2 separate regions of the Homo sapiens genome follow, and region 2 is linked to region 1. Evidence: fine-mapped QTL for protein levels in blood plasma. A gene starts in region 1. The other region holds a variant in brackets. All regions are shown on one strand. Distances are between the middles of the regions.

Region 1 (8,322 bases):
GGGAGGAGGTCTTCCAGCTGCTCACACTGTTGTCCTGCTCAGGTCTTCAGAGACTGTGCTTGAGGAGAAGTTATGCTTCAGGCTCCCCCGGGGGTTTAGAAGATTCCTCCACCCCTCCACCCCCAGCCAGGGACTGAAGGAATTTATGCAGGTAAATAGGAAATGACATCTCAGCTTATAGTGAATGGCACGGAGCTTTCAGATCAGCCCACCCATGCACCAGAGACTGGAAATGAAGGGAAGCGAAGTGAACTAAGTGATTTGAAAGAGCTGCCCATTTCCCATCATTGCAGGACACCCTGGTGTGAGTGCAGTGTGCTGCAGGGAAAACAGCATGGACTTTGGAGTTGTTCAGACTTTTTAGTTGAATCCTGGCTCAACTCCCAGCTGTGTGGCCTTGAGCAAGCGACTACCCCTCTGGGCTTGTGAAATGGGAATGGCAACACCTCTACCACACAGAGCTAAATAGACATTGTATGTATGTCATTTCTCTTTCCCAAAGAGAAAAGCTACGAGTTGAGATGAGCTCTATTCAGCAACTGCAGACTACTTGATGGAGGTGGGGTGAGTGTGGCTGTGACTTCCTTCCTTCTTCTCTGTGGGTGCGAATCAGATTCACCGCCCTGACTCAGAGCGGACCCCTAGCTGGTAAACAGGCCTGAGGAGAATGGGGGATGCTTGGTGGGGGCTGACCTGTGACCACAGTCCCATGCAGCCATTAGCACCCCCACCACACCACAAACAGCTGTGCATGCTTCCAGCTCTGAGAAAAATGCAGCTGTCGGTGGTCTCCCTTCCCCTGGAAGCTGGCATTGGTTTAGCATCTGGGACCAGACAAACCAGGAGTGAATCCCAGCGCAGCCACCTACTGGCTTGTGACTGTGGATGAGTCATTTACTTCCCCGAGCCTTCATTTCCTCATCTGCTATGTGGGGAAATAATAGCACTTCCTTCATCAATAGCGCTTCTCATTAAACAAGGAAGTGACTATAAGATGACTTGGCACAGTGCCTGGTACCTTCTGAGTGCTCAAGAAATACCAAGGCTGGATGTGGTGGCTCACACCTATAATCCCAACACTTTAGGAGGCCGAGACGGGAGGATCACTTGAGTCCAGGGGTTCAAGACCAGCCTGGGCAAAATGGCAAAACCCCGTCTCTACAAAAAATACAAATTAGCCAGGCTTGGTGGCGTGCACCTACAGTCCCAGCTACTTGGGGGGCTGAAGCTGGAGGATTGCTTGAACCCAGGAGGTGGATGCTGCAGTGAGCCGAGATTGTGCCACTGCACTCCAGCCTGGGTGACAGAGTGAGACCCTGTCTCAAACAAACAAACAAACAATAAATGAAATATCAGTTGGTAAATGGAGGAGTAGTAATTGACACCTGCCCCTAGCCCCATGACAGGGTAAACAGGGCTGGCTAGCTAGTTTGTCCTGAAGAGAAAAATGGCAAAAAGAACATCATTATCTCAACTTTCAGATAAGAAAGTAGAAGCCAAATGAAGCTCAGAACTGTGCTGCATTCACAGAAGACGGAAATGAGCTCAGAACTGTGCTCCGCTCACAGAAGACGTAAATGTTCACCACATGTTTGTGGGAGGGCCCTTTCCAGCACACTCTGAAATACAGGCCAGCTCACCTTACCTTTGCAGGAACATCCATACCATGGCTATCACCACCAGCCAGCATGTCATACCCACTTGGAGGAGACAGGCACCGGCAGACCAGGGCAGGGTGGTTGTGAATTCTTGAGGGGACGCCAGGTCATGGCACCTAAGGTGGAATGGTTCTGGCAGCCTTTGCGGGCCTTAACAACCTCACACAGGAGGGAGTCGGCACCTCTCTGTACGGCCTGCACCTTCCAAACTGGAGGCTGAGGCTGCGCAGTGCTGGGGTCCCAGCTGCCCAGTGTCTGGAGCAGAACATCCAAGCCCATGAGCGGCTCCCGTCTGGAAGGCTGGGGGCCCAGTCAAACTTTCCTTCAGCGATTCTGCCCTCTGATTAACCAGGAAATGTGTTATTTGTTCTGAGCAGGGGAACAAGCTCTCCTGGGGAGAGGAATTCAGGGCTGGAGGTCCAGTTACTTCCAAGCAAGAAAAATCCCTGGAATTCTTTCAGGAGTCTGGGTCTCAGCAAAGGGGGCCGAAATGTGGCCCTTGTTTTTGGTCCTTATTTACCAAATTAGCTCAGGTTCTGGTAGACCTCTGGCTGCCAACATTATTCCAGTGAGACATGGAAAAGCAGTGAGTTTGCCCTGGGAGTCCAGGAGACTGCTGTCCCTTGCATGGGGCATGTGTCTGGGCAAACCTTTCCCTGCTGGAATCTCTTTATCAACCCTTTAGACTCTCTCTGCCGGGTTTTCCAGAGATGATTTTCCTCTCCAGACCCAAGAGATGGGTGAGTAGGCTTAGCAGCGATCTAATGAGGGAGAAGGCTTTAATCAGGGGGTGGGGAAGTGACACACGGTGAGTCAGCGGCCATGCTGAAACAGCTTCCCTTCTTTCACTGGGCCAAGAGGATTAAGGGTGGCAGAAAGTTCTGATAACTCCACATCTCCAGGTACATGAGCTCCAGGTACATGAACAGTGGGCTGGCAGGCAGGGAAGAGGGCATTTGGGGATATGCCCTAGAGCTCCTTTGGTGGTGATAGTGGTGGGGTGGTTGGAAAGGTCATGATTCAATTGTGAAGAGGGCTCCAGGCTTACAAGCCCGGGGTGGAGGCAAGGCGGTGTAACCTTAAAAGCTTGGGCTCAGGTGGAAAATGATCCAGGTTTGAATCCTGCCTCTGCTATTTATCAGCTGTGCCATCTTGGGCAAGCCAGTAGCCATTGCCAACCTCAGTTTCCTCCTTTGTATGCGTGGAAATCATAATGCCTCCTTTGGTTGGTTAAATCAGCCAATTGATGTAACATGCTTAGTATGGCGTTTGGACTAAAGTAGGCTCTATCGATTTTGGCAGGTTAAAAAAAAAAAGCAAAACTCAAGTGTTTGTGGGATTGGAGATTCTGAAGAGCTGCAATCAGTCCCAGCAGTTAGAGGGTAAGGGAGATATGGGCAGTAAGTAGGTGGCAGGACAGAGTGTGGCGCCGGGATGGGGTAGAAGATGCCAGTCTTTGGAGTAGATGAACTGGGTTATGGTCCCCAGGCGAACAGGGTGGGAACGTCCAAGGACCACTTGTACTCACTGAGGAGTGGAAGGGGCGCCCGATGGTGAGGGAAAGTTGGTCTGCGTGAGGGTTTTGGCGGAGGCGAAGGGTGAGGGATGAATGGGCGGCAGACTTCCAGAAATGCAGACGGAGGAGACGGAGCAGTAATAATGACTTGGACACACAGGAGGAAAAAATAGCTCAGGGACGAAGATGATGCCAAGGTTTCTGGCTTTTGGAGGCCCACGGGGATCTGAGGTGGGTCTTGAGGGATCTAGAGGGGAGCTTCTGAAGGAAGTGGGTAGGTTCCGGGGAGAGGAAGGGAGCCCAGAACTACAGAGGTGGGTGGATATCTGGGCAAGGAGAGGTAAGTGTGGACCTGGGGCTTCCACAGCTGTGAAGGAGCAGCATCCCAGGAACAGAACGCAGCATTCTGGGAACTAAGGGGCATTCATGGTCAAATGCAAGGGGTAGGGTTCAAGGAGATCTTTAGAGCCAGCCCCAAAGGCAGCAAGCACATGAACCTGGATCAGGAGCTGCCACCCAGAACTCAGTTCCTCTCTCTTAAAATGGGTCTAATGATACCAGCCCTCCCCACTTGATGGGATTACTGTGTCCTTCATTCAGTTAGCTATCCATTTCACACATACTTCTTGGCTGTTCTAGGTTCTGCAGAAACAGTGGTGAGCAACGCAGACAAGATATCTGTTGCTTTAGAGCTGTCATTGTGGTTTGGGAAGTCAGACAAGAAATGATTTTATAGGTTGTTGAATAGGACTTTTCCTCTGCTCTTGGAATATCTGCTGAAGCCACAAAGATAGAACAATGAGGGCTAAATATTCTTGCATTCTGAAGAGAAGTACTAGACACCTTACTAAAGGCAGAACAGGTTCAACAGCAATCAAACTACATCCCTCAATTCCAGTCTACAAATGAAAGGGATTGAAGAAAGTCACTGAAGCATAACACTGCTGCATTTGTGGGCAGGGCTGAGATTTCCCCTGAGGGAACTCCCCAACTCAAACCAAATGAAGGGAGCTCCCAGAGAGAACCAGTCATCTGCAAGAAGAGGAGGCTCTGTCCCTATAACTGTCCCCCCACTGATGCTGACTATGTTGCTGGATGTTACAGGCACCTCGGTGCATTAAACTACAGCAAGACAGTTCATGGGAGAACCCAACATATGTCTTTAGGAATTGAGGACGTACATAAATGAAGAGACTTGTGTGCACTTCCTGTCTGGAGAATTCTGATCGTGGAGCCTCGCTGGAGTGGCCTGTGTGGCAAGGTGAGAAGTGGGCAGGGTGAGGAGCGGCCAACCCACCATTGTTTTGCCTGGCATAGGTGGGACAGTCCTATGAGAGACAGAGGATGCAGGGGTCTCCGAGAGGTTGGCCAGAGAGTAATTTGCTATGGCAACTCAGGGTGGAGGTCCTGTAGAGAACCTCCCAAAAACCCACATATGTGCCCATGAAAAAGCCAGCGCTTGGCACCTGCCAACCAAGGGTACCTGTCACATAAGACTTTGCTACTTTTCCTCTAACACCTCTCTCCCAGCCTTGACAAAGAGGAGCCACAGCAGAAAAGGGAGGTCAGGAAAACAGACCACACCCCACTCTCACCACTGCAGGATCTCTAGCAAAGGGACAGGGGAGAGGAGGACTATTAAATGGGATGTGATATTGATTAACTTGGATGAGATTTTGATCTGGACAGGAGCAGACTTTTTGTGTCTGAAAATGGGTCTTAATTATATTAATAGAATAGTTCTCGTGTCTGGTAGGGATGACCTCTCAAGCCAAGGACTCTGCCTGAGATGTCATTAAGGGTGGGAAAGGGAAATTTACCATAATATGGTTGAAGGTAGTAGTGGAGCAGTTTCTGGATAGTCCCTCTTTAGGTTCAGCCCATTAAAAAATTCAGTTACACGAGCAAACAAATCAATAACAAGATGATGTCAACTGTTTTATGAAGATGAAACAGGGTGGTGTGTTAGAGTCATGACTGGGGTGAGGGAGGGCTGCTCTAGATTGGAGGTCAGGGATGGCTACTCCAGGAGCTGATATTTAATCTGAGAGGAGCAGTGATGAGGAACTACCCTCTAACATCCTGGAGAGGAACCTTCCAGTAGAGGGAAGGGGGCATTCACTTGGCTTGTTCAAGGAGCAGAGAGAGGGCCAAGGCAGCACAGTGTGGTGGGTAAGGGAGAGCAAGAGGCCAGATGAAATCAGAGCGGGGGCAGCCAGCTAGGGTTTGTAGGCCAAGGCCAGGGGTCGAGGCTTTATTTCAACAGTAGATATTACCTGGGCTTGTCTTTTGTGTGGTGTGGGAGGTTGTGAACTGGTGCCCACATGCCAGCTCCTTCACTCTGCCTCTCTGGGAAATAGGCTGTACAAATGTGCCAGGGGCAGCCCTGTTGATCCAAGCCTTTAGGCTGTAGGGAGGGAGCATGGGTGAGAATGGTGTGCTGATTACTGGGGACACGCAGACAGCGGCAGTCAGCATTCCCACACCCCTGCCCGCCTCCCTGCTAACACAAGATGTGAATGCACACACTGGGTCAATCGGGGTCACCGAATCCCCCTCTGGGAAATTCCCGAGAGAGTGAAGGGCTGGGTGGGATCCCGGGAATGGATTCAGCCAGAGGCGGGAGGCCTAGATTCCACTCCCCTCTTTCACATGCGCTATCTCCTTGAGTGACTTACTCAAGAGGCTCCGTGTCTTTGCCTCGGTGAAAAAGAGGACCCCTTGGCCGGGCGTGGTGGCTCACGCCTTTAATCCCAGCACTTTGGGAGGCCGAGGCGGGCGGATCACCTGAGGTTGGGAGTTCGAGACCAGCCTGACCAACATGGAGAAACCCCGTCTGTACTAAAAAATAAAATAATATACAAAATTAGTCAGACTTGGTGGCGCATGCCTGTAATCCCAGCTACTAGGGAGGCTGAGGCAGGGGAATCGCTTGAACCCGGGAGGCGGAGGTTGCGGGGAGCTGAGATCGCACCATTGCACTCCAGCCTGGGCAACAAGAGCGAAACTCCGTCTCAAAAAAAAGAAAGAAAGAAAGAAAGAAAAGAAAAAGAAAAAGAAAAAGAGGACCCCTCTTCTACCGGCAGCCATCACCGCGCCAGGCTCAGGCGTGACCCTCACGCCAGTGGAAGGGGATTGAGATCCAGAGCGAAGGCGGCGGCGCCAGGGCATTGCAGCCACGGAGCGCCAGGGCCGCCAGCTCCGCCAGGGGGCGCGCCCGGGACCTCCCTGCGCTCCGCGCGCCGCGCCCCGCCCCGCGCCACCCCCGCTCCGGCCGGCCCTGCGGAGGGCGCCCCCAGCGGCCAGGGCGCAAGCGGAGGGGGCGGCGGCCCTGTTCCCCTACGCGGGCCTCGGCGCCCCTCCCGGCTTCCTTCAGACCTGCAAGGCTGCAGCCTGGGTCCCCCGATCCAAAGACGGTCCCTGAGGCGAGGGGCGGGAGAACGATTCGGGGCAGGTCTGCAGTTCGAACTTGCCCAGAGCAGGAGAAAGGCGGCCCAGTGTCCCGGTCGTGGCAGGCGCCATCTGCCCGACCAGCGCCTGGGTCAGCCCCGCGCCGCCCCCTGCTCCGCACGGGTTAATCCCCCTCGCCGCCCGCTCGCCGCCCGCTGGCTTCCCGGTGCCAAAGTGGGTGTTGCTGGAATTCCTCGCTCCCTCTCCGGTAATGAGGGGGCTGAGCTGTCCCTCCGAGGAGGGGGCCTGGTGTGGATAAAAGAGACGAAAAAGCCGGGGGAGGTTTCCAAAAATAAAACCGTCCGGGTCCCCTTCAGACGGCTGCAGGCACAGGGAGGAGGCGCGAAGGTGCAGCAGCCGTGCGAGCCCAGCTGGAGTAGGAGCGCGGACTCGAGGCTCGGGGCGCGCAGCCCTCGTTCCGCCGAGAGCCGGGCCCCCAGTCGGCCGCTTCAGGGCCCCCTAGACTCAGAGAAGCTGGCCGCCGGGCGGGGCCGGGAGAACAGCCCGCGGGCGTCCAGCGTGCCGACCACAAAGCTCTTCGCGGTGCCCGCGCGCACCACTCTCCAGCCGCCCCGCGCCATGAGGCCGCGGACCAAAGCCCGCAGCCCGGGGCGCGCCCTGCGGAACCCCTGGAGAGGCTTCCTGCCGCTCACCCTGGCTCTCTTCGTGGGCGCGGGTCATGCCCAAAGGGACCCCGTAGGGAGATACGAGCCGGCTGGTGGAGACGCGAATCGACTGCGGCGCCCTGGGGGCAGCTACCCGGCAGCGGCTGCAGCCAAGGTGTACAGTCTGTTCCGGGAGCAGGACGCGCCTGTCGCGGGCTTGCAGCCCGTGGAGCGGGCCCAGCCGGGCTGGGGGAGCCCCAGGAGGCCCACCGAGGCGGAGGCCAGGAGGCCGTCCCGCGCGCAGCAGTCGCGGCGTGTCCAGCCACCTGCGCAGACCCGGAGAAGCACTCCCCTGGGCCAGCAGCAACCAGCACCCCGGACCCGGGCCGCGCCGGCTCTCCCACGCCTGGGGACCCCACAGCGGTCTGGGGCTGCGCCCCCAACCCCGCCGCGAGGGCGGCTCACGGGGTGAGCATGGGAGAGGGAAGTTTGGAGGGTACAGAGGGGAGCCAGGGCTCATTTGTGGAGGGGCGTGCAGGCGAGAGGAGAGGGCGCCGCTCTCATACCCTCGTCCCTCTGTCTTTAGTACTTCGGGAAACAGCCCCGAGGTTCCAAAATCGGGATTGGAAGATTTGATCCGCTTTCGAAGAGTTGAAGGCAGATAGATCATCATCCTCATCCTTTCTTACCAACTCTCCCGGAGCCCCGACGTTAAATCCTTTCGCAAGGCGCCTCTCCACTCGCCCGCGTTCCTCCTGCCTGCAACTAACGAGCTCTTGTAGACTCTTGCAGCGCTGCCGGGATCTGAGAGGCAGCGGGGAGAGGGCAGGAGGGTGGGCGCTCCAGGCTCTTGACGCCCAGGGGAGGTTGAGCTGGCTCAGAGCGCGGGTTGGCGGAGGTGTCGGGGGCCCCATGGAGAGAAGGTAGATGCGTCTCCAGGAGGGGAGCCGGCAGCGAAGCTGGTGCGTCGGGACAAGTGTCGTGGGGCGTGGGTCGGCCTGCGCACGCTGAGGGCTGGATGCGGGCGTGGGCGTGAGCTCTGGGTACTTTGGGCGGGAAGCGTGTCCTGATGAGGCTGCGACACAGTGGGCGC
Region 2 (8,322 bases), 22 kb before region 1:
GTGGTGCAATCTCGGTTCACTGCAACCTCTACCTCCCGAATTCAAGTGATTTTCCCACCTCAGCCTCCCACCAAGCAGCTGGTATTACAGGCATGCACCACCACACCCAGCTAAATTTTGTATTTTTAGTAAAGACGGGGTTTCATTATGTTGGCCAGGCTGGTCTCAAACTCAGGTAACCTCAGGTGATGTGCCTGCCTCAGCCTCCCAAAGTGCTGGGATTACAGGTGTGAGCCACCACGCCCAGCCAGTTGCTGAACCTTTAAGGGCACTTGCCACGTGCCAGGTATGTCTCATTTGGCCCTCCCAGACATGCCTTTGGCGGGTGGTGGGCGGGAAGACTCTAACATGGTGTCAGCTGGGAGCCTACCTAGCCTGGAATTTAATTCTTCCCCAGCCCCCAATATTTTTGTGGCTTAAGTGAAGTTGAAGCTTCTCTCTAAGATTTCTGTGAACTCCTACAGACTTGTGGGTCCTTGAGCCCCTCTGCATCCATACCTGCTGGGGCAACCCTGCCATGGTCACAGCAAACCAAACACAACTTCCTCTAAGCAAATCCTGTGATCAGTATGGAGATGGCAGGGAGTTGATCTAATCCTGGCCCTATCCCCAGGGCCTCCCAGGAGATCTGTTGCTGTCCTCCTCCTCTATTTTGATGCTACAGACCCAGTGCAGACCCCACAGGTTCCTGATAAGCTCTGAGTCCTTCCTTGGACTGACAAGTTGGCCAAATGACACTGCTTCAGAGGATAAGCAATCCCTCATGTTCCAAAGATGAGAGCTCTCCTGATGTCCCATTTTTGGGTCCCATGAGACTTCAGGATCATCTTCCAGCCTAAAATTGATGTCTGTTTTGCTTCACTTCTCTTGTCCTTCTTTCAAGTCCAGTAGAGCCCATTCCCTCCAGGAAGCTTCCCCCAACTCCCCCAGCACACAAGGACATCTTCTTTCTTTGACCCTCTGTATCCTATTGTCAAACCCATCACGGGAGGCAGGAGAGGAAAGAGGTTACTGGTGCAGGTTCTGAACTTAGCTGTCTGGGTTCAAATCCCACTCCCGCCATCTGGGTGTTGTGTGACCATAAGCAAATTATTTAGTACTTCCAGGCCTTAGTTTCATTGTCTTTAAAACAGAGGGAGTAACAATAATTCCTATCTCATGGGGTTGTTATAAAGATTAAAAGAGATAATGCGTGTAAAGCTATATAGACTAAAATCTGGCATGCAGTAGCTGCTTAATAAATATTACTTATCAATAGCTATTGATATCAACCATTCAATTAGTACTTAATTTCATACTGCTTTATTCCAAGGGTATCAGGGATGACTTGCTGATGTGAACACAGGAAGAGGTCTCTTAATGATAATTGCAGCAACAACGCATCTCTTGCCAGGCACTGGGTTACGGGCTTACTCACATTATCTCTGGGCTTGAAGAACCATCAGTTAACCAGTGAAATAGTGTGGAAATTGTAGCATGTTATGAGGGTAATTTGGTATTTTTTCTGTTTGTTTGTTGTTGTTGTTGTTTTGTTTTGGTTTTTTGTTTGTTTTTTGAGACAAAGTCTCACTTTGTTGCCCAGGCTGGAATTTAGTGGTGCAATCTCAGCTCACTGCAACCTCCGCCTCCTGGGTTCAAGCAGTTCTCTGCCTCAGCCTCCCGGGTAGCTGGGATTACAAGTGCCCACCACCACACCCGGCTACATTTTTTTGTATTTTTAGTAGAGACGGGGTTTCACCATCTTGGCCAGGCTGGTCTTGGACTCCTGACCTCGTGATCCACCCACCTCAGCCTCCCAAAGTGCTGGGATTATAGGCCTGAGCCACTGTGCCTGGCCATGAGGCGTGTACTTCATTTGAAATGAAGTGCAAGTGCAAATACAGGGTTTTAATTTATTGGGGTGTTTTGGGTTTTGTTTGTTTGTTTTGTTTTGGGCTGTGTAAATGGGGACTAGGAGAACTGGAGGGTACAGATTTGCCAAGGTTTTTTCCAGACTTGTCCAGTAGGAAAAGTGTTCTGATTATTTCCTGAGCAAGATCTGAAAATCTGTCAGATGGAGGATCAGCAGAGCTATCCTGAAAACCTGCCATTTAGGATCTAGGTTGTTCAGTCAAATCTCTCCATTAGACCTAAATGGGGCCTGGAAGCAAGAGGCCTGTCTGGTTGTCAGCTGGTTGTACTCACCATGCCTGTCTCCTTTATTTAAATTGTTAAAAGCAAAGGCAAGCTTGACTCCTAGCTCTCTATTCCTTACAAGCTATGTGACCTGGACAAGTTGCTTAACCTCTCTGAACATCTGTTCCCTTATTTGTGAAATGAGGACAATAATGCTTGTGTAATACTTCAGTCCCCTTGAGGATTAAACAAAATAACATAATCAAGAGCATAGCACAGTGTCTGATACTTGGCACACCAATAGCTATTATTATTTTCCTCATCTTGGGACATGAAAACTGCCTCATAAGCTGCTCTCTTCCCAGAGCATTTGCTTTTTATATTATTTTGTTCCATCCTCTTCTACGTTTCCTAGATAAACTTATTTTGACAAATTCTGCCTTGGCTGAACTTTGGGAAAATGAGCATGTCCATCCCTAGAACAGTGATTGGAGGCTGCCTTTTGAGCTCAGCCACCATGGTGGTAGCTGGAAATCTGGGGAAACTGAGGCAGACAGTGATGCAAAACTGAGGACAGGGCCACTTGGGATGGTGAGAAACAGCTCAGATTTTGTTCTCTTCTCCCTTGGGGGTATTAACCTGTGTTCTTGACTCCCCAACAAATTATAAGCCCCTGAGGCACTCTGCCTCAGTTCCTCTGCCTATAAAATAGGAATAATAATGCTATCAACTTCGTAGGGTTGTTATGGGGATTAAATGAGATAATAAACTTATGTGCTTAGCACCAAAGCTTGGCAAATAGTGTGTGCCCAACAAATACTAGCTTTTACCATTTTATGTGTCCACGAGGCCTAACATCGCTGGGCACACAGTGAGGTTCCCGAATCCTGGACTCCACCCCTCAGAGTTGGTGCTTTTCTGCCCTGACTCCCTGCAGTCCACCTGAGTTCAGCCCCACCTTGTTGATTCCATCGGGAGGTGACATTGAAAACCACAGATGCCATCTGTTGGGGATTCTGAATTGTTTCTGGCCCTTATCAGCAGTGTAAAGGGGGCCAGGTTGCGGACAGCTTAATGAGGAAAACAGGAGCTTAGCGGCTGCCAGAGGGCAACAGAGTGCCGGAGTACCAGCCCTTCCTCTGGAGGAGACACTGTCTGCCCAGGCTCTTGGCTGA[C/T]GCACGTCGTGAGATCTGACTTCCTCTCTCTGTTTTCTTTTCAATACAGAATAACTTTCCCTACCTCAGGCCCTCACCACCCACTCTCTGGCCCAGCCTCTACCTTGGAAACAGGGTTGAAACATTTGGGAGCTGCCCCATTCATCAGGCATCCCATTTGGATCATTCAACAGTCCCCAGTACTTCCCCACTTCCCCCTTCTCTCTCTCTTGTCCCATGAGGAGTATCCATGGCAAACTCAATAAGACCTAAGATCTTTACCTTCATTTTCTCATTCAATCATTTCTACAGTCCTATGACATAGCTCTTATCCATCCCATTTTTACAGAAGCAGGAGCAGAGTCTCAGAGGTTCAGATCTTTGCCGAAGGTCACACGGCTAGAATAGGGAGCAGCTAGATTTGAATTCAGGCCTTCTGGCACCTGCTCCCTTGTTCCTCTGTACCTGCCTTCCCCTGGGGGAGGATGGCAGGATGGCAAGTGCCCAGTGCTCACAGAGCAGTGTGCTGGATGAGGGGCAGAAGGGAGACGGGGGAAGAAGGGAGGCTACTGTTGCATAGTTTGCCTTAGGACAGCCTTGACTGATGAAACCACCTTCCAGGCTCCAAGAGATTTTTCTCTCCATAGCTGCTCCTGATCTGGCTTAGAGACAATTGCCTCTGCCTTCTTTATCTCTGAAGCCTTCCCCCCAGCCCCACCTACTTGGCTTTTGACTCCTTGCAGGGTTGCAAAGGGGCCTGCAATGCCTGCACTGCCTGTCTCCTGCTTGGGGGGCTCTGGGTTCAGCTGCTGTCTCTAAGCTGGTGGCTGCTTTTGGCTTCTGCTCCAGGAGCTGCAGACGGGCCAGCAGGGGGTCTCCAGAGAGGCCAGACCCTGGAGTTAGTTAAATGAGGACCAGCTGGGTTGAAGCAGGAACGTTTTAGCCTTCCTGAGGCAGACGGAGCCTCAGCCTCAGACCCCTGCCATGCAAGCCCTTTTCCCATCACCCACTCTCTACTCTACTTCTTGGGGCTGAAGTTGTTGATATATTTCAGGCCCTGCCTCCCCAGTCCCTTCCCCCTGCAGCCCTGCTTAGAGGGCCAGCTGACTGCTCTCCCGTCCTGCCTGTCTGCCCTGGTAGTTGCCCTTCAAGCTGGGTAGTAGCTGTAGATATCAGGAGGTGCTGCTGTTCTCCAGGGCTTGGGAAAATATCCTACACTTGACCTTTCCCCCCGGCGGGGAGAGGAATGTTGAGGCCAGAGCTGAGTGGGATCTGCTATCCTGGCAGGCGGCCTGCCTGCGCCTCTGGATGAATGATGGGGATGGGCTAAGAGGGTCAGAGACTCTCCCAGCACAGGCAGAAAAGACTGAGTGCCCCAGACTGGGCCAACCTCTCATCTTTGGGGTCCATTCCCCATGCCAGAGCCCTGGGCTGGCTCTCAAGGCTGTCCCCATCATTCCTGAAACACTGAGCTGTCTGCAGTGTCCTCAGAGTCTGTCACCGCATCACACTCTCTCCAGGGAGGCTGGATTAGCTGCCCAGAGTTAACAGAGAGGGCACTGGGAGGGGGCAATTGTTGATTCTCAGTCTTCACATCTGAAAATGGCAATAGGGCTGGATTTGTGGTTTTCAAGCGGTATTCGGACAAGCCCCAACGTTCCTCCAAGATGCCTCAGAGGCTATAAGGCAAAGGGAAGTATGTGTGTTGGGGTGTTTGGGGAGAGATCAAGGGCGGGCCCCTTTCCAGCCACAGGAGCTCCCCAGTTTCCTGTTCACATCTTGGATCTGACTCCTGAACCCCTGGCAGTCTGGTCCCTGAATCCCTAGCCCCTGCATCCCACACTACTCTGCTTGCCTTGCCTGTGAGTTCCTCCAGCACAAGAGCCTTCCTACCTCCAGGATCTTATGACATCTCCTCCTGACCGTCCTCCTCCATACCTCCTTTCTGAGTTCTGTGCACCCTTCAGATCTCAGCTCCAATGTCATTCCTTTGGGGATACCTTCCCCAAATCCCCTCCCAAGTCTGTATTAGGTCATCTAGCTGCATACGTCTCTTTCTTAGCTCTACTTCAATTGCAGCTCACTGTTGATCTACTTATCTAATTATTTTCCCAGTGTCTGTCTCCTCCACTACACTGTATGCTCACAAGGGCTGGAATCAGGTCTGGATTGCATGCTGCTGTATCCCCTAGCACAGCACCTGGGACAGAGTTGGCATTCAGTAAATATTTGTTGAATGCTGAAACACTGCACAAAGGTTTTGCTCAAAAAAAAAAAAAAAAAAAAGTTGAAAACCGCTGGCCTAGAGGCTCTCTCAGTCAGTCCCCTTCCAATTCCATTTTTTTTTTCTTTGAGACAGTCTCGCTCAGTTGCCCAGGCTGGAGTGCAGTGGTGCGATCTTGGCTCACTGCAACCTCTGCCTCATGGGTTCATGCTATTCTCCTGCCTCAGCCTCCTGAGTAGCTGGGATTACGGGTGTGTGCCACCATGCCTGGTTAATTTTTGTTTTTAGTAGAGATGGGGTTTCACCATGTTGGCCAGGCTGGTCTCGAACTTCTGGTCTCAAGACATCCACTTGCCTTGACCTCCCAAATTGTTGGGATTACAGGCGTGAGCCACCGCGCCCTGCTCCCTTCCAATTCTGCATCCACATCCTTAAAACTTGGATGCAATTACCTTCACCACCAAAATATTTCTGGCCCTCCCCATTAAAACTTTACCTGGCCTTTTCTTAATTTCCATGGTGTTTAGAAGGGAGTGATGTAAACAGTAATGGGAAGAAAAATAAAGGAACTCCAAGAAAGGCAGGGTATTAGCCCCCTCCACCCACTAGAGAAGCAGATGGGGGTGGGGAAGACAGCCATGTGCTGGAAGAAGAGGACAGGGCCCAGCACTCAAACCTCCTCTGAGTCTCAGGGGGTTTGTTTGTCTCAGGACACACCTGTCCCACATCCATTGAGCTGCCTGGCAGGGGAGGAGTTCGCTGCCACTTAGGCTCCAGTGACCATAGCTCTCAGGCCAGCTGTTTCCTTGCCTTTGAATTAGTGGCTGACCCTGTGTTGTCTCCTGCCTGTTCCAAGCAGCCTGGGAGACTTCCAAGCATGTCTTTTACAGGCCAGATGTGTGTCCACTGGCTGTGAATTCTTGTATGGAGAACAGGTGGGTGGTAATTATTCTAGCAGGAGCTGAGCGTGACTGGAAGCTAAGGAGACAATTCTATGGAGCTGTCAAGAACAGAAACAATGTTCTTTTCCTGAGCTTGCTTTTATAGGAGGAGAGGGAGATGCAATCCAGGGCTGTGGCAGGAGCCTTGGCCCCTATGGCAGGTTCTGCAGCGTCCTGGAAATTCCCATCCCCCACCCCATCCATCCCCCACCTCTCTCAATTGACATCCCATGTGTAGAGAACATCTGCTGTGCACATATGCCCAGCACTTCTTCCCTTCCTTGAGTAACAGAAACTCAGCTTTCCTTTGGGAAACTCAAACTCCCCAATTCCATGCATTCCTGGTGGGGCTGCCAGCCACAGGACTCTCCCAACCCTCCATTCTCAAAGGGTGAGCATAGACCCAAGATCTGTCAGACTTTTTCCTGGGGAATTTGAATCTGAGTTGGAGTCATTACCCATAATGGAAGGCAGTTGCTTTAGAATCATCCAAAGCCAGACAGCTCATGAGTTCCCGCTACCCAGACCCCCAAAGCTGCCCTGGTCCCTTCTCAGGCCTGAGTGTTGAAGGCCTCCTTCAGTACCATGTATCTTTCCAACAAATTCTCTTTCGCCACTTATGTTTGCCAGAGCCAGCTTCTGTAACTTGCAGCCAAAGCTGATGTGTATCCCATACGCTTGTATCCCAGCCTTCTTTTCCAGCCCTTTCTCTTTCTCATGTTCTACCTGAAAATCCATTTTTACTTTCCACACCCTGAAAACCTTTATGCCCCCTAACCTTTTTCCCCTGTCAAGAACGCTTAGGAAAGAGTCTATCCCCAATCTTTTTTTTGGGAGGGGGGGCGGCGGGAGGGAGTCTCACTCTGTCGCCAGGCTGGAGTGCAGTGCCACGATCTCAGCTCACTGCAACCTCTGACTCCTGCGTTCAGGCAATTCTCCTGTCTCAGCCTCCCGAGTAGCTGGGATTACAGGTGCCTGCCACCACGCCCAGCTGATTTTTGTATTTTTAGTAGAGATGGGTTTCACCATGTTGGCCAGGATGGTCTTGATCTCCTGACTTCATGATCCACCTGCCTTGGCCTCCCAAAGTGCTGGGATTACAGGTGTGAGCCACCGTGCTGGGTCTTTACCCAATCTTTATACTTCAGAGTAAATGAAAACATTCTCTTTGATCTCCTCTTGGGCAGATGCATTTCTAAGTGCTGACCGAGTGCCTTAGCATCTTGTTTCAGAAATCAGAAGTATTCGTGAAGAGGTGGGAGAGAGATTTCAGGGGGCAGAGTAGACTTTCCCTAAAACGCCCTGCCATGAACCCTGACCCCTTCTCCCCTGCACTTATCCGTCACTTGGATGCAGTGGGAATTGCCTTGTCCCAGACCTGGTCTGTTGGGCAGCTGTTTATATCGGTTCTCTGGGAATTATCCCCTGATACTCATTAAGTTTTGTTCCCACTGGAGTTACCTGCCTCAAGCTGTAAGATCACAATTCCATGCAACTAAGCACCTCCAGTGTGTGTAAGGTTCTGAGTCAGGTGTCTGAGATACAGCTGTTCATGTTTGCAGTCTTGTTGAGCAAACAGAGCCAAACCCACCATGCTGACTACATGAACTGAATGCTGTGGGAGAGCTGAGCCCATGGCCCTAGGATTGCAAAGCAGGGAGGGCTGGAGTCCACCTAGCCTGTCTCTCTCAGCTGGTATATAAATTGGAGTTCTTTTTTTTTTTTTTTTTTTTTTTTTTGAGAGTCTCACTCTGTCACCCAGGCTGGAGTGCAGTGGCACAATCTTAGCTCACTGCAACCTCTGCCGCCTGGGTTCAAGTGATTCTCCTGCCTCAGCCTCCTGAGTAGCTGGGACTACAGGTGCCCGCCACAATGCCCAGCTAATTTC

Direction of the effects. Alleles are on the strand shown, and positions count from the first base shown. The strength of an association depends on the size of the effect and on how common the allele is.
As copies of T replace C in region 2, the plasma level of the protein whose gene starts at base 6,911 in region 1 goes down (moderate association).

Evidence for each region. PIP is the posterior inclusion probability: the model's chance that the variant is causal. The UK Biobank Pharma Proteomics Project read protein levels with antibody pairs (Olink). The fine-mapping took linkage between variants from a reference panel, not from the people measured, so its PIPs are less certain.
Region 2: its variant is fine-mapped to the plasma level of the LTBP2 protein (UK Biobank, PIP above 0.99).

Annotation. Positions count from the first base shown.
Region 1 is chr14:74,610,826-74,619,147 of GRCh38, reverse strand. It overlaps LTBP2 (latent transforming growth factor beta binding protein 2), which reads left to right and starts at 6,911. Exons shown (of 36, transcript NM_000428.3): 1 at 6,911-7,697. The coding sequence starts at 7,204. It overlaps LOC101928352 (a long non-coding RNA gene), which reads right to left and starts at 5,963. Exons shown (of 2, transcript XR_944029.4): 1 at 5,853-5,963; 2 at 5,100-5,581. RefSeq lists enhancers at 420-1,619, 6,228-6,855 and a silencer at 6,281-6,600.
Region 2 is chr14:74,633,171-74,641,492 of GRCh38, reverse strand. No RefSeq gene overlaps it. Among named protein-coding and RNA genes, the nearest start is that of LTBP2, 25 kb to the right of the region's middle. RefSeq lists a silencer at 6,153-6,447. The variant C/T (reference allele first, on the strand shown) is at 3,291.